2 separate regions of the Homo sapiens genome follow, and region 2 is linked to region 1. Evidence: fine-mapped expression QTL. A gene starts in region 1. The other region holds a variant in brackets. All regions are shown on one strand. Distances are from middle to middle. Region 1 holds the start of TFCP2L1 (transcription factor CP2 like 1). Region 2 has its middle 87 kb from the start of TFCP2L1.

Region 1 (8,749 bases):
AGGGAGGCATCATCATCTTCATTCCATAAACAAAGATTCTGAGCTTGGAGAGCGTGGTGGGTGCTGTCATGTCCAGCCAAAGTGTCCCTCTCCAGCTGCGGCACTCAAGCCCCTGCTGCAGGGAGCCTTGGCAGGTGATAACACTGACAGGTCCCTCTCCAGGACTCAGCTGAGCTGCTTTGCCCAAAGTGATGTCCCTTCCCCAGGGCAACCACATCTGTCCATGACTGGTCAAGGTGGTATAGAAAGGCTTGAACCCCTGCCCAAATTCTGGACAACTTGGAGCACCAGCCTGGCCCTGAGCTCATATAGGATCCACTGAGGCCTCACAGCTTAACTCTGTCCTCTGCTCACTGCTTCCCTCGTTCAGCGCTGCTGATCCCAAGATAAACTGTGATAAACATGTGTGCACACGCTTTCCCTCTGGCTCAATTCCGCCCTCTACGTTGGCCATCCTTCAACTCCTATTCATGCCTCAAAACCATCTTCTCAGACGTGAATCCCCAGTATTCATCGTGATCTCTTTCGAGAGCAGCTGGGAATCCCTTGTGGGGCTGCTAAGGGGGTGACACCTGAGTACTCAGTGGGCCCCTTTCTGCTGCCTCTGCAGGGACCCCGGGCTGATCCTGGGAGCAGAGGACATCTGGTCACAGCACCTTTGCCCAGTGTGGGGTGAAGAAAGGAATGCCGGGCCTTAAGACAGGAATGGATGAGAGTCGGAGTATGGTTGTTGAATTTACAGGCCTGGCCTCAAATCCCAGCTGTGGCAGTCAGCCTCCCAAGCCTGTTTCTTCAATCAGAAGGTCAGGTGATGTCTCTTCTTCTCAGTGTCGGGAGATGACAGTGCATGGCTCTGGGTCTGGTGCATAGTAAAAATCAATGTTCCCACCACATGGGAACTGTGAACATTCACAGAATAAAAGAGGAACTGGCAGGCCATCTCCTGCACATCTGTCTCCTCCTCCTCAGCAGCCTGGAAGCCCCAGGGGTCCAGACTAGGCCTAATTGGGCCCTGTAACACCCAAGAGTCATGGGCAGAAATATGCATTTTTGTTCACACAGTGTGACTCAAATGCTGTCTCTGTAGGCATTGCTGAATTCTACCCTCCCATAGTTAAAAACCTACAAAGAGAGAGAAAGTAGGCAATGACCCAAAATACAGAGAGTCATACTTAGGTCATGAGAGCCATCATCCCTGAGAAGCTAAACTCACCTGAACCTAAGCTTCACCACAACCATGAAATGAGCCCTTATTATTCCCAATAGCAAAACCCAGATCCACAGGGCCCAGCGTATCATTTTTCCATTTGTATGAAACAAACCAGCCCACACCTCAGTGGCGTAAGGCCACAGCCATCCATTTGCTCTCGAGCCTGCATTTTGGGCAGGGCTTGGGTGGGCAGGGCTTGCCTCAGTTCTATGAGGTGTGGTTGGAGGCAATCCCCTGGGGCATCTTAGATGGGCTCTGCGGAGTGGCCAGAGGGATTGGAGGCTGACCAGGTCTCCCTCTCCAATGGGGCATTTGGACTCTACCTGGTGGCTCAGAGCTCTGGGAGAGTTAAGAGAAGCTGCCTATCATGCTTGTAATCCCAGCACTTTGGGAGGCTGAGGTGGGTGGATCACCTGAAGGTCAGGAGTTCTAGACCAGCCTGGCCAACATGGTGAAACCCCGTCTCTAATTGAAATATAAAAAATTAGCTGGGTGTGGTGGCAGGCACCTGTAATCCCAGCTACTCAGGAGGCAGAGGCAGGAATATCGCTTGAACCCAGGAGGCAGAGCTTGCGGTGAGCTGAGATCCTGCCATTGCACTCCAGTCTGGGCAACAAGAAACTTCGTCTCAAAAAAAAAAAAAAAAAAAAGAGAAGCTGCCTAGGGGCCAGCCCAGAAGGGAAAAGCATTACTTCCTCTGCATTCTATGGTTAAAGTAAGTCACAGGGTCAGCCCAGGCGGAAGGGGGAGGGGAGGGAAACAGACACCACCTCTTGATGGGAGAAGCAGCATGAGGTCAATTTACTCCACCCAAGGTCATAGATTCAGATGGAGCTAAGTAGTAAACCCAGGTCTGAACCATCTAATAATATTGACTGCCCTTCCTCCAGGCCTTTGCAGGAGCGTCTACTGGGCCGGAAACCTCCCTCCATCTCCACAGATTGGTTTCACTTCCACTCACCCATCCATCAGGAGATATCACTTCATGCTGGAGCCTCTTCGGAGCTCCAGAGTCCTCCTCTGTGTTCCCAGGGCAGCCTCTACGTCCCTGACCACACTGTACTGTCACTGCTGCTTACCCATGGACCTCTCCTGTTAGAACTCAAGGACGAGTCCAGCAAAGGACATGTTCTTTCCAGACCACCCCAGAGTGTCTCCCATTTAAACAATGGGTTTGTCATGGACCCTGATGGGGTGAGGTTGGTTGTGGGGGTCGGTGTTCAGGATGTTTCTTTGGAAGTTCCCTTAAGAGTAACCCCTGGGCAAGGAACTGGAAGGAAGCAGGAGGGAGACCCTGAGCAGGACACAGGTCTTGTGACAGCTTTGACTGTCTTCATGGGGAGTCCTGGGGCTAAAATACCCCATCAGCACTGTCCCCAGTCAGGCAGAGATGGCCAAGCTTTTATACTTCTGCTGGGATAGTCATTGGGATGTGGGCTATCCCAGGAGGGACATGACAGAGGGCAAGGCTGCTCTCTGAGCAGGGGCAGTTCCTGGAGAAGCCGATGGCTGGGGGACTGTCTGCTGACAGCACCACCTGAAGCCGGGGAAATATTCCCATTCTCCTAACAGGGCAGAACAGTGGGGGGCAGTCCTTGAGGGCTGCACAGAGGAAGTGGTTTGCCAGTTGTGACCTATGGCTGGAGGGAGGAGGGCAGGAACAGCAGAGTGAGGGAGGGTTTTACCCACATCCATGCGTGGGGGAGTGGGGAGTTCTGGACCAGGTCCCCAAGGGATGTCATTTGACTGGATTAATACTCAGGGACAGAATCCCCATCTCCTCTGTGCCAGGTGCTGTGCCATGTACTGGAGAACCGGATAGCACCTGGATAGGGGTCAGGGCTCCAGGGAACTCCACTCCCTCCTAATGGCCCTCCCCTCCACCCCATGACCCACTGTCTACACTGCTGCCAGACTGATCTTTCCAAAAGGCAAATCATACATGTGACTCCTCTGCTTAAAACACAGAATAAAATCCTAGCTCCTTGTCCTGGCCTGCCAGGCCCTCTGATCTTCCCCGCCCTCCTCACCTCATCTCCTAAGCTCTCCTCAAGACCAGCCATGCCAAGTAGGTCTTCCTCAAGGCTTTGGCAGTCACTGTTGCCAAGGGGGTAGGGAACTATGCCTGGAACTATTTTTCCCTAGGTGATGTTCACAGAGATGCTTCCTTTGCATCCATCAGGTCTCAGCTCAATGTCACCTCCTCCAGGAAGGCTTCTCTGATTACTCTTTTGGTGCATTCCTTTTTTCTTTTTTTATGTTTACTCAACAAACATTTATCTTAACTATGTCCCATGCACTGTTCTAGGCAGTGCAGGTAACGGGGTGTTAAGCGAGCCAGGCCCTGTCCTCTTGGAGCTTACAGTCTAATGGGAAAGACAATCAGTACACAAGTAAAAATAAAAAATAAAAAAATGTCGGCCTGACTCGGGGGCTCACGCCTGTAATGCCAGCACTTTGGGAGGCCAAGGTGGGCGGATCACCTGAGGTCAGGAGTTCGAGACCAGCCTGGCCAACATGGCGAAACCCCGTCTCTACTAACAATAAAAAAATCAGTCAGGCGTGATGGGGGGCGCTTGTAATCCCAGCTACTCAGGAGGCTGAGGTAGGAGAATTGCTTGAACCTGGGAGGAGAGGTTGCAGTGAGCCCCGAGATCGCGCCACTGCACTCCAGCCTGGGTGGCAGAGCGAGACCCCGTCTCAAAAAAAAAAAAACCAACAAAAAAACCCCCATGATTTCAGAGCGTCTGAAGTGCTATGAAAAAACAAGAGCGAGGAAAGGCGACAGAGAGGGCCTAGGCTGGAAATCTCGGAGCCGCTCTGGAGACCGGCCCTGGGCGTAGAGTGGGGAGCAGAGGCCAGAGGGGCCGTGTGGAGCGGGTTGGGGGCGGCAAGGGTCACCTGAGCCCCACATCGGAGTTTGGGGAGAGCACCCGGCCGGCCCTAGAGCCCTCTGGTCTGGCCGCCCCGGAGGCGCGCTCGCTCGCCGGAAAGGCACGCGCGGGAGTCAGCCAGGTGCGGCTGCCGCGGGGAGCCGCCCTCCGGGCCGCGCTTCCTGGGGGGCGGGTCTCACCGCTGTCCCGCCCCTGGGCCGCCGATAAATGCGCCGAGCCGGCCGGCACCGCGGGTTCGGAGCGCGAAGCCGCCGCTGGGTCCTCGGCGCGCCCCGCGTCTGCGCTTGCTGCCGCGCCCCGGTCGGCGCGCTGGGAGTTCCAGCCATGCTCTTCTGGCACACGCAGCCCGAGCACTACAACCAGCACAACTCCGGCAGCTACCTGCGGTAAGGGCCGCGCGCGGTCCCCGCGGGTCTCGGGCCGGGCCGGCGGGCCGGGCGCCGTTGGACGTCCAGGGGCGGAGAGGGGGCGCCCCTGCTGGGCCCTGGCCTCCCCGCTGTCCGCCCTCTGGGGACTGAGAGACCCGCCCAGCGTCCCGCCTAGGGACTGACAGATGGACGCCGGCGGGACCCGACGTGCGGAGTTGGGGGCCCGCTGGGGAGGCGAGCGCGCAGAGCCCTATGTCTGCGAGGGCTCCTCCCAGGCGGCAGAGAGGGTGCAGGGCGCGCACCTGCCGGCCCGCCGCCTCCCCTGGCCCGTCCGCCCCCTGCGGCCCTCCTCTCCCCCGCGTATCGGAGAAGCAGAGGAAACTTCCTGCCAGCAGCCTGGTGCCCGGCCCGGGGAAGTTCGTCCCCTGCTCTTTGCCCGTCTCCGCCGGGGCCCCTCTCCCAGCCTCGCGCCCTCTGCAGTGCCCTTCCTTGGACGAGGGGCGGGCGGCGGGCTCGGAGGGGCAGGCCGCCCCACTTCCCGCGATGGTCTTGCGCGTGTTCGCCCGAGGCCCGCGTGGTTATTGCCCTTGATGGAAATCTTTCTTCTGCTGGAGGGATTTGAGTAGTGCCCTTCAGAGGGGAAAGTAAGTCCTGCGTGTTTTGCACAGTTCCCCACAGGCCCCTCTTAGCAGTAGGACCCCGTGTGCTCTCGCTCCCGGAGGATTGTTTTTCCCTGTTCTGCTGCTGGCCGGGACTAATGGGCAGTCATTTCACTTTGTGAACTCGCCTGAACCAGCTTTAGCCTGTCCTTATTTCCATCTTAGTCACAGTTTATGAAATGTGCCTAATTTAACCCAAAGGGCATTTGATATGGGCTCAAGGAAAATGAATGATGAGGCCGAAGGAGTCACAGGCATTGACAGCCCCCATACTAGAGCTACCTTTAAGTGCTAGTTTTGGCCCCAAGAAGTTCCCACTTAGATCTTAAAACGTTATTTGTAATTCCTGGCTGCTGGTAGGTATTTGTCCTCCCTGAAGACATCCCCTTTTCCTGGAGGCGGGGGAATGATTGGGTTTAGTGGATGTATCTGCTGTTTTTATTCATGGGCCAAAGTAGTCGGAGATGGCAAAGGTCTAGAGCCTTAAAGGCTGACAGCCACCCGGCAGACCACGGTGATGTCACCAGAGGGAAGCCCAGGAGGAGATGTTAATCACCCAGAGATTAAGTGTCCATTCACTTGCAAGAAATGCTACAATGGAATACATTTTTACTGTACTGAAGTTTTAGTTGTAGCTTTGGCTAAGTTTTAGTTTGCTGCCATTAAGTATGTTGCCATATCTTAACAATGAGTTTGAAGGTGACCCTGAGTTGAAGGTGAGTGTACTTGAAACTTCCTAGATACCTACAATGTCCTCACCCCGTTAGGGAACAATTCTCCCTTGCCTGGGAGGTACAGTTCTGACATCTGCTACCGAGATGGAAGTTTGTCTGGAGTAGCTCAGGTACCTTTTAGGATTTGGTGAAAGGAGGAGGGTGAGCGTTGGGAGTGGGTGGTGCTGTAAAGCCATATTGGCTTCTGGGGTCATCGGGGGACCATGGATAAAGAAGTCCTTGCCCTTTTTTATTTCACTTCTTGGAAGCTGGGAGTTTTGCCCTCAGTGAGGGCCAAGGTGGCGGTTTGTGCATATGCCCCTGGTCCCCTGACTCTAGAGGGAGGGTCTGGTCCTTTTCCTTGCGTTTTTTGTATTTTATTTTTGGTCGTCTCCTCACTTGGCAGAACTTCTGCAAGCTGTCTGACCTCACCAGGGTAGAGGCCTTTACTCCCTTCCCCCTTTCTGTTTGATGTTCTCGTGACTTTTATTCCTTGGCAAATAAAGATGCCAGGCTTGAAACAAGTTACTGTTGAGGGATGGTTCTTAACTTCCTCTGCCCACCCGCCCCTGTTTAAAAAATTTAAAGGCAGCAGTCCGTGGATTATTAACTTGACATGGTCTGGGCAAACATGAAATTATGCAATCCTCAGTGTTCCTAGAGAACCACCCGGGCTGGGAGTGTGCCCTGCTCTGACAAAAGGAAGACGCCCTGTGGGGGAAAGTCGAGACGGCCTTGCACCCTTATTTTTCGGCAGTGGATGGTGACGGGGGAGGCCCACACAGGGCAGGTTTTCCAGGTGTGTGCTCAATGCCAGGCTTTTTCTTCTCAAAATTGATGAGATGTTGATGGGGTGTGTGCCGGGTTTGTGTTGTAGAGACGCTTGTTTATGATGTGCGAGGAACAGATTGTACCAGTGACTCTGTTTATACAGACAAGTGGGGTCAGCTAATTGGATTCCTAGTCAGGGACCCACGAAGGGAAGAGGGTTATCAAGATAAGAGCACTGGCACTTATTTGGCACTTGTTTATGTGCTGCTCATAATTTAGAGACCTTACACAAGCCTTGCCTGCCTGTAGGTCATTCATGTTCTCAAGGAATTCTTTGTCCCTTGTAAGGGCATTTTTAAAATGCTGGGTTTTTTGTTTCTTTCTTTTTCCTTTTTTTTTTTTTTAGAGATGGTGGGGTCTCACTATGGTGCCCAGGCTGATCTCAAACCCCTGGCTTCAAGCAGTCTTCTCACCTCAGCCTCCCAAAGTACTGGGATTTCAGGCATGAGCCACTGTTCCTGGCTTAAAAAATACGTCCAGAAACAAGTTCCTCCCTAAGTCGCAGGATGATGACTTCATTTTTTTTTTTTTTTTTTTTTTTTTAATGTGGAGAGTTTTGTTAAGAGGTGGAGGAAAAGAAACTTGGAGCAAGGATTTCAAGATTTCCCACTTGGATAAGAAAATAGACTGGGCTGGGCGCGGTGGCTCACACCTGTAATCCCAGCACTTTGGGAGGCCGAGGAGGGTGGATCACCTGAGGTCAGGAGTTAGTGACCAGCCTGACCAACATGGTGGAACCCTGTCTCTACTAAAAATACAAAAATTAGCCAGGTGTGGTGGCTCATTCCTATAATCCCAGCTACTCAGGAAGCTGAGGCACAAGAATTGCTTGAACCCGGGAGGTGGAGGTTGTAGTGAGCCGAGATCACGCCACTTGCACTCCAGCCTGGACAACAAGAGTGAAACTCCGTCCCCCCCGCCCCCGCCCAAAAAAAACAACCACACAAACACAGACTTGAAGCCAAGGTCCTTCCTTCCTGTTTGCCTTTTGGACAGATTAGAATGACCCTGAAAACAGTGTCCAGTTGTCCTCTCTTTAGAAGGGATGGAGGAATGTCTCAACCTGGGTACTCAGGGAGGGAAGGAAGTGGTTTGTTCATTTGCATAGTTTACAGAGCCTGGAGGACAGAGTTGTATTGCTATGAGAAGTGGCCGGTAAATGGAATTGTTGATTAAAAAATAAAAATGTTTGTTTAGATTTTTATTCTAAAAGTGAAACTTTATGAGTGATCGCTTGTGGATAGAAACCAAATAAATGTCTTAGAGGTCCCTTTGCTGCTAGCCTGTCTCTGGCATGGAGAGGATTTCTGTAGATGTTAGCTAACTTTGCCCTTTTACCTCCTTGATGGGCTGATTGAATCAGTGTTTTGGGGGGTCATTGAGTGAAACTAGAGTCACGAAGGAGCGGTTTCCTCTGTTTTAAAGCATCTGGAGTATTCGAGGGTTGCAGGAGTGCAGCCAGCACCCTGCGATGCGCGTGCCGTGTCACCCTGGGCCCCGGTGGTCTGCGTCGTCTCTCTAGCTTCGCCCTGGCTCTGTGCAGGAGCCCCCTGGGGCTCTGCTCCTGACCTCTGCTTCCCGTGTGTTGCAGTGATGTGCTCGCTCTGCCCATCTTCAAGCAGGAGGAACCCCAGCTGTCCCCCGAGAACGAGGCCCGCCTGCCACCCCTGCAATATGTGTTGTGTGCTGCCACGTCCCCAGCCGTGAAGCTGCATGAAGAGACGCTGACCTACCTCAACCAAGGTAGTGGCCAGAGGCCCCGGGCCAGGGCGGAACCCAGAAGTAGTGGGGAGCTGATGCGAAAGGCCCATTTGGGCCTTGTGACTTTGTTACGGTGGGTGAGGTCGGGCGAGGTCGGGCTCGGGAAAGAGAACAGGTGCAGGTTCAGATTCCATTTTCCAGCTGTGTGACCCCCTCCAGCCTCAGTGTCTTCATCTGAAAAATGGAAACATCAGATACCTCACGCGGGTAACAGGGTAACACTCTGCATTCCTCCTATAGCCCCTCCATGGAGCAGATGCTAGCATTATTTCTGTTTTTCCCTCCCTCCCTCCCTCCCTTCCTTCTTTCTTTC
Region 2 (8,749 bases), 87 kb after region 1:
CAAGCGTGCACCACCACACCCGGCTAATTTTTTTTTTTTTTTTTGTATTTTTAGTAGAGACGGGGTTTCACCATGTTGGCTAGGCTGGTCACAAACTCCTGACCTCAGGTGATCCACCTGCCCCAGCCTCCCAAAGTGCTGGGATTACAGACGTGAGCCACTGCGCCTGGCCTGCTAGGTGCTTTATATCCATTCTCCCAGAAAACCCTCATGATGGCTTTGCAAGGTGGGTGTTATTACACTCATTTTCAGATGAGGAAGCAGAGGAGAAGGAAGGTAAGTTATCAGGGGTGCGCCCAGCATGGTCCCACTTCCTGCTGCTGGGCTCCCTGCAGAACGTACTCCATCCTTGACACCTACTCCTGCTCCCTTGCTTTGGGACTGGCTGCAGATCTACAGGTTGTCCAGAGACTGTGTCCATGTAGGTGCCATGTACACACCTCCCGGCTGGTCAGCTCTGTGTCAGCACTCAGGCCACCTCCCAGGAAGGGGTGCTCACCCCTCTCCAGAGATGGCACCTTCTGGTGACCATCCCTGCCCCTCTATTGCAGATGCACTTGGGAGGCCAGTTCTGTGCTTCACCTACTTCTACCTTCCTCCTTCATCTGTCCCTTTCATTCATTCTTTCCCTCTTGAAGAGAAAGTGGACTCAAAGTTCAAGCTGATCTAGCAGGGAGACTCTGGCTCTGACTCCCATAGACTGTTTTCTTTTTTCTTTTTCAGCTCCTGCTGAATGGGAGGTAGAGCCTGGGGTGAAGCCTGGAGAAGTCATCCACAGGGATCCAGGGCCCAGCAAGGGGTCCAGGGCAGGGCAAAGCCAAGACTGTTCCCAGCCAGTTCCCAGGCAGGATCAGGCAGAGACCAGCAGAGTCAGGCTCCCCTAGAAATTGCCCCAATGCAGATCTGAAGGTGGGTGACACTCTGGCCTGTAAGGACACTCATGCACAGATACCAGGCACTTCCCATGTACCAGGAGCAGTGCTTAGCCCTGGAGCCCAGGCACAAGCAAGACACCATCCTTGGCTCAAGGGACTCCTGGCTGGTGAAGATAATTATGGAAAACAACCAACCTGGGAACACAACAAATCCTCTGAAAATGAGGAATGGCTGCCATCTGTCTGGAGGCTCCCTGTGCCGGGCACCAGGCCGGGCATCTGGGGTGCGTTAGGACTCATGCTCATGAGTGACTTTGCAGTGCAGATATCTTTATGTCCATTTCTGCCAAGGAGGTGATTGAATTCTAAGGCTCACTCAAGGTCAAAAATCATGGAGGGTCAGACTTGGAACACAGGTCTGTCTGACTCACCTTCCTTCCTCCCAGCTTTGGCTCCTAATCCTTGCATGAGGAGCCTCTGAAAGCGCCTTTTGCCAACAGCCAGCAGGGTGGGAGGCCCCAAGTGCACTGAGCAGAGCATCTTGCCTGTAGCTGATCTTGGCTATGACCGCAGGGAAGAAAAGAGATCCTGTGTTTTGGGGGTGAGGTGTGTGACTGGGGGAAGACAGTCCTGGCAGGGTGGAGGTGGTAGCAGGGGCCACCACTGAGTTCCATGGCTGAGCTCATTCTTGGCCTTTAATCATAGCCACTGGGTAGCTAGAATGTCACATCGTACTGGGGGCAGAGGGCCCAGGTAACTTCCCTCCAGACCAGGGGCATGGGTGTCTTTCAAAGGAAGCAGGGAGGGCCCTCCAGCCCCGGCTCTCTGGTAGCAACTCGAGAATAGATCCTGGCCCTGTGTCCCTGCTGGAGGCTGCCATTCTGCCATCTGCTCAGCCTCTTGGGTCTGAAACAGCATCTTCTGTTGATACCGGAGCTCACGAATCAGTCGTCTTCTCACTGTGGCCAGGGCACGCTGAGCATTTCTCCAGGACATCCTTCATCGATTGGGGAAGTCTTCTGCCTGGAATGTGCTCCATCTGCCTGCCTCTCCCTCCTCCTTCAAGGCTCAGCTGAAGTCTCCCTCTGCTGAAGCGTTCTTTGACAACTCGGTCTGGCCCCCCATTTCTTCACACTTTGCACCCTGTCTTAGGCAAGTTGCAAGGTCCTTCAAAGGCAGGGAGCAGAGACGCACACAGAGCCACTGGAGCAATGAGGGCAACTGTAAGCCTGCACAGCAGGGTCCCCACGGCACTGCTAGCTCTGAGTTCAGGACTCTACAGCAACACACAGCGGCTCAGGAGCTGCAGGAGCCCACAGCCGCAATGCTCATCCTGGCCAGCCTCCCTGGAGTGCCACACCCTGCCCCACCCCAAGGCCCACCGGCCAGAGCCTTGAGGCCTCAAAGCCATCCCTTCCCTGTCGCCTGGCCCACTGGCAGCTGGAAACATGCTGAGAGGGAAGGCCAGGGCTCAGGCGGGTCAGGGTCTCTGTGTCAGATGAAGTCACGGAGGGCACGTGTGAGGCAAGAGGCTGGGGGGGATGACAGCAAGCCACAAGTGGAGCCCTCGGCTATGTGGAGCCCCGGAAGGAGTGGGAAATGGCTGGACTGCAGTGTAGGAGACACCATGGGAAGGAGGCCTGCAGCCCCAGCTTTGACCTTCTTCCTGTCCCCAGCTCCAGGTTCTCCTGGAAGGTCAGCTGCACTAGGTGGGGGCTGGGTGAATCTCCATCACTGCATTCTCCAGGCCTAGAGTGGCACCTGGCACCCAGTGCTGCCTGGGTCCATGTCTTGCTGTAGAGAACTGAGCACAGAGCTAGAGGTGTCGTATCACCCAGATCACAGATCGGAAGGAGACACTGTCCCATCCTCCAGGGCACTCACTCCTAAAGTGGCAAGCAAACAGGACATGGAGACAAGGTGTGATGGGGGCATGCAGTGGTGAGGGGATGGGGCATGTCTGGAAGGGAACCGTGTGGAGAAAACTCTCTTCAACAATCATCAACACAGAATACTTCTGTGATCAGATGTGCGGGGGTTTTCCACACACCAAGCAGCGGACTCCAGCTGGGGGTCCTCGAATTCTGACTCCCTACCTGGAGATAGTGTGAGACCCCACAAGTGGAGGGCTCAGTCCCCAAGACTGCCCCTGCCCCCCACCTCCACCAGTCACAAGTCCAGGCCTCCGGAACTTCTGACATACTGACTTCAAGTTGGGGTTCCCATGACCCCCTCTTTGGGTTTGAGTAATTTGCTGGAGCGGCTCACAAAACTCAGGGAGACACTTACGTTTACTGTTTTATTATAAAGGATATTGCAAAGGATACAGGTGAAGAGACGCATAGGGCAGGGTATGGCGGAGGGGTGTGGGGGTTCCATGCCTGCCCTGGGGCACCACCCTCCAGCGTTCTCCATGTGTTCAACTGCCTGGAAGCTCCCTGAACCCTGTCCTCTTGGGTTTTTATGGAAGCCTCATGACATCAGCATTCCTTCCCCCAGGGTAAGACTGTGGTCTTAAGACCCACAGTCAGAAAGGCAGGGGACACAGGCGTGAAGGGAGGGCAGGAGAAGGTCAAGGGCCTGCCCCTGAGGCCTTAGACACCCAACACCATAACCCAAGCCTGTAACGATGGCTGTGGGGGTTATGAGCCAGGAACTGTGGGCGAAAACCAAGATAGTTGTCACAACACCATAGGACCCCTCATCCCAGCCTCAGGGGTCTGGGGCACTTCCTGGAGATGAGGCTTGAGGTTAGTGGGGTTTTAAAATTTATTTTCCTCCCAAGTTTTTGTAACTTAATTTTAATTTTATATTTTTTAGAGACGGGGTCTCGCTCTCTCACCCGGGCTGGAGTGCGGTCACAGGTCACTGTAACCTCCAGCTCCTGGGCTCAAGGGATCTCTCCCTCCTCAGCTTTCCAAAGCGGGGGCATGCATGAGCCACCACACCCAGCTGTAAATTTTAGAAATAATTTCAAACTTACAGAAAAGTTACCAAAATAGTACAAATTATTTCTGATACAATTCGAACTCCTTAAAATGTTCATGTTTTACCACAGTTGCTTTTTCTCCCCATCTCTCTCTCATTCTCTCTCTTTTTTTTTTTATTCAGAGTCTCACTCTGTCGCCCAGGCTGGAGTGCAGTGGCGCTATCTCGGCTCACTGCAAGCTCCGCCTGCCAGGTTCACGCCATTCTCCTGCCTCAGCCTCCCGAGTAGCTGGGACTATAGGCGTCCGCCACCACGCCCGGCTAATTTTTTGTATTTTTAGTAGAGACGGGGTTTCTCTGTGTTCCAGGATGGTCTCGATCTCCTGACCTTGTGATCCGCCCACCTTGGCCTCCCAAAGTGCTGGGATTACAGGCGTGAGCCACCGTACCCGGCCCTCTCTCTCATTCTCTTAATACATTTTTTTCTAAAATATTTCAGAGTAAGTTGCAGACAGGAAGCCCTTTTACCTCTGAATATTTCAGTGAGTGTTTCCTAAAAATGTGGACACCCTTTAACATAACCGCAGTACCATAATTCATGTTAGGAAATTGCAATAACACTATTAGCTAATTTGGATTTTATTTTGAGGAACTCCTCTGGTCAACACTGGTGAGGTGTGGCGTGGGCAGGCCGG[G/T]GGTGTGGGGTGGCCAGTGAGTATGCAGGGTTGGTCAGCACTTCCGTGCTGGTACCCGAGAGGGGTAGGGGACACGAGATTGCAGAGTAAGCTCATCTCAAAGGCCTGGGACTTAGTTGAGGGTTGAACTTGACCCCAAAGCACTGGGGAGCCGGCAGATTGGCAGGCTGGCCAGAACAGGCTGGTCCCTCTTGTGTCCTTCCTGATGCCCTGGCCTGGCACCCGTGATTCCAGTCGGCCAAGGGCCCTCAGTCCATGGGAGAAGAATCGAGTTGCCCTGTTCAGTGAGAAGTTCAGGAAGAACAGAATGTACTTACTGTGCCCAGGGAACAGGGAGTGGAAGGGCAGGGAAGGAATTAAAAGAAAAGTAACCGAGTGTGAGTGTCTGGCAGGAGCCTGGCCTGTTTTGTAACCACGAAGTGTCCCAGTGAGTCACCACTCTTCTCCAAGGCCTGCTCCTTCCGTGTCACCCCCGAGCTGGTCTCTTGTTCCAGCACTGTTCTCCTCTCAGCTTGGTGTTCCCGGGGCACGTGGACTCGGAGTTATTCACAGCTCGGTTTGAATTCAGCCGTGGCTGGCTTGTGAGCTCAGGCAAGATGCGGTCCTCTCTGAGCCTCCTGTCTTTTTTTTTTTTTTTTAGGTGACCGAATCTCACCCTGTCGCCCAGGCTGGAGTGCAGTGGCACGAGCTTGGCTCACTGCAACCTCCGCCTCCAGGGTTCAAGCGACTCTCCTGCTGCAGCCTCCCGAGTAGCTGGGATCACAGGTGCCTGACACCACGCCCAGCTAATTTTTGTATTTTTAGTAGAGACGGGGTTTCACCATGTTGGCCAGGGTGAAACTCCTGACCTCAGGTGATTCGCCTGCCTCGGCCTCCCAAAGTGCTGGGATTATAGGCATGAGCCACTGTGTCTGGCTGCCTCCTGTCTTGTAGATTGTGGCAGGAGCTCCAGGTGGGATGGGAGGTGTTTTGCCCAAAGCGGGCCCAACGCAAGCCTGGTTCCATCACTCACTGGCCCCTAAGTCTCTTTGTGGGTAAGGCCCATGGCTCCCGGGCACTATTTCCCCCAGCTGCGAGGAGGCCCGTGCTTACCAGTGAGTGCCTTGAGAGCAGGCCTGGGCCCGATTCACCTCAATGCTCCTGCCCAGGCCAACGGCACACAGGTGTGTTCAGTTGATGTTTGCCGAGGCTATGAGGAAGATAAGCCCCAAAGTCGGCACCTAGCGTGCAGCAGAGCCTTGGGAAGCGTTGTAGTCTTACGTGAGGTCTTTAAGCCCTCCAGAGTTATGCCCCAGAGCCCAGCGTGCCGCAGGTGATGGGTGTTCCCCTCCTGAGTGTACACCAGTTGGGAAGGAGACCCCTGCACGTGGAATTACTGGGGCTAAGGAGGTGAGAGGCGGGAGCTGCAGCTGGGGCTGCAGGAGGTCGTAGCTAGGACTGCCGGGCTACACTGGGTGTGGGGGTCTGAGCAATGCGTAAGGCAGGAGGGAATGTGGGTGTGTGGGCAGGGGACAGGGGTCTGGCTGCAGCCCTCATCTCCTGCCAAGGCTTTTCCTCTGCCCTTGGGGTAACCCGACACCCAGCCATACACCTGAGGTGCACGTAAGGGCTGCACCTCACCTGCCTCTCTTGGCTGCTCCAATTGCATTTGGAAGGTGTTGCAAATTGCTCTGTGATGTTCTGGAGCCAAACCATGTCCCTGGCCCATAGCCCAACCCCTGGGGCTTGGCGTCAGTGGCATTGTCCCTGGAAGACAAGCTGCCTTTGAGGGTTTGAGGGTTTGGAGGGTTTGAAGGCTTTGGTTTGGCGGGCCCCGTCCACAGGGCTCTACCTGGCTGGGTCAAGCAGAATCAGGGTGGTGAGAGGACACAGCCCTGGGCCACCCAAAGGTGCCCCTGTGATGAACAATGTAGAGGTTAGGAGTGTGTGCTCTGGTGTCAGACAGCCTGGGCTCCACTTACAAGCTGTGTGACCTTGGACAACTGACTGAGCCTCTCCGTGCCTCAGTGTTCTCATCTGTAAAATGGAACTGGTAAGAGTCCATACCTCCTAACAGTGTTGTTAAGGTTAAATGAGCTTATACAAGTAAGCCACTGAGAGCATCCCTAACTTGTGTGAGCGTCATACAAATGGAAGCCGGAAGCCACTAGGATAGAAGGCAGATTCCTCTGAGGGCAGAATGAGGCCAGCCTCCCCTCTCCTGACCCTCCAGCCCTCTGTGATCTGCCCCTGCCCATCATCCTGCCTCATCTCTTAAGCACCCCTCCCTCTCCACAGCAGCTACACTGAGTCGCTGGTGCTTCTCTTGAGCCTGCTCAGGCCTCTGGTCCCAACAGGTGTCCTCCTCTGCCTGGGGCAACTTTCCCCTCTTTGTGGGGTCAACACCTACCTTTCACTTCCTTTCATGACTCAGCTCAGGTGTCACCTCCTCCAGGAAGCCTTTCACTTAATGCTGTGACATGATTAACCTCACTAAAGCCTGCAAGGTTTGAGCAAATGGAGGCTCCTCTAAGAGGCAGAGCTGCTTGCCCAGGGGTAAGCTGGAGTGGGGAGTTGGGACTAGGCTCTAAAGCTTTAGAGAAAACCAGCTTTAGGGTTGCTATTCCCCCTAGCCAGACTGCCTCTTGCTGTCGGCATTTGTGGGGGACGCTGGAACAAGCCATCCCAGTCCTGCTTCAGGACTGAGGGACTTAGTCCACAGCTGCTGGGAGGCTGCCCATCAGCCTTTCCAGGAATTGCCTTGGCCGAGGGGAGCTTCATTGCCCAGGGCCATCTTCTTCCTCAGAGGATGCCCGTGCCTGTGTGGAAGAGCCTCATGCGCAGATATAAAGGCTTGGTCTCTTGCCCCAACCTGGGACAACTCAGGGCAATGCCAGCTCCAGAGCTGCCTGTGGCATCAACTGAGGCCTCCACTGAGGCTGCTTCACAACCCAACTTCTCCCTCCACTCAATCCCACCTTCATCCCCCACCCCAACATGGAGTCCCAGAGTGCTTCCCAGTGACAGTCCCGGATGCTAATCTAAAGCAGAGTCTGCTTCCAGGGAGCCCGGCCTGCAGCAGGTTCTTGCTTGGAGGCATCTGAATCTTGCTGGAAGGGATTACAGAGATGCCCAGAGCCTGCAGGCCAGGCTTGGGTGCTGTGCAGCAGGAAACGCTATCAGGTCCCTGGGATGACATGGGTCAATGCTCCCTCACTGCTGTGGCTGCTCCTAGGGCCGGATGCCAGACCCCCGCCACACTGTCCCCAGACCAGTGGAATACCTTCACAGCACATGAAGGGTTGAACTTGACCCCAAATTCAACCTGGTTTATGGTGTGAGGGATGGGCTAACCCAGGAATGAAAGGGGAAGGATGGCTTGTGTTTGCAAAGGGAGCTTCCTTTGCAAAAAACCAGGCCACTTATGCCTTACTCCAGAGAAACAGTCTCTTAGATTAGTTAATTAAAAATTCCTGAGGGCAGCAATCACAGCCGATTCAATTCTGTCTCCAGGGTCTGGCACTGGGTTGGGAACTTCGGAACACTCAATATTTATTGAGTGTGTAAATGAATGAAAGAAAGTGGCATTAAAAAAAACCAAACAGGCCCCGGTGTGTGATGTTCCCCTTCCTGTGTCCAAGTGTTCTCATTGTTCAATTCCTACCTATGAGTGAGAACATGCAGTGTTTGGTTTTTTGTCCTTGCGATAGTTTGCTGAGAATGATGGTTTCCAGCTTCATCCATGTCCCTACAAAGGACATGAACTCATCATTTTTTATAGCTGCATGGGGCCTGTTGTGGGGTGAGGAGAGAGGGGAGGAATAGCATTAGGAGATATACCTAATGTAAATGACGAGTTAATGGGTGCAGCACACCAACATGGCACATGTATACATATGTAACAAACCTGCACGTTGTGCACATGTACCCTAGGACTTAAAGTATAATAAAAAGAAAAAAAGAAAAACAAACAGGCTGTAATCCCAGCACTTTGGGGGGCGGAGACGGGCGGATCACGAGGCCAGGAGATCAAGACCATTCTGGCTAACACGGTGAAACCCCATCTCTACTAAAAATACAACAACAAAAAATTAGCCGGGCGTGGTGGCAGGTGCCTGTAGTCCCATCTACTCGGGAGGCTGAGGCAGGAGAATGGCATGAACCTGGGAGGTGGAGCTTGCAGTGAGCTGAGATAGCACCACTGCACTCCAGCCTGGGCGACAGAGCGAGACTCCGTCTCAAAAAAAAAAAAAAAAAAAAAAGAAAGAAAAG

What was found.
Region 2: its variant is fine-mapped to the expression of TFCP2L1 in whole blood (TOPMed, PIP above 0.99). The same link has a PIP of 0.9 or more in monocytes.

What each region holds. Positions count from the first base shown.
Region 1 is chr2:121,280,789-121,289,537 of GRCh38, reverse strand. It overlaps TFCP2L1 (transcription factor CP2 like 1), which reads left to right and starts at 4,336. Exons shown (of 15, transcript NM_014553.3): 1 at 4,336-4,490; 2 at 8,267-8,418. The coding sequence starts at 4,429. RefSeq lists a silencer at 4,171-4,310.
Region 2 is chr2:121,193,706-121,202,454 of GRCh38, reverse strand. No RefSeq gene overlaps it. Among named protein-coding and RNA genes, the nearest start is that of TFCP2L1, 87 kb to the left of the region's middle. RefSeq lists enhancers at 1,733-2,232, 2,233-2,734, 4,580-5,478. The variant G/T (reference allele first, on the strand shown) is at 4,499.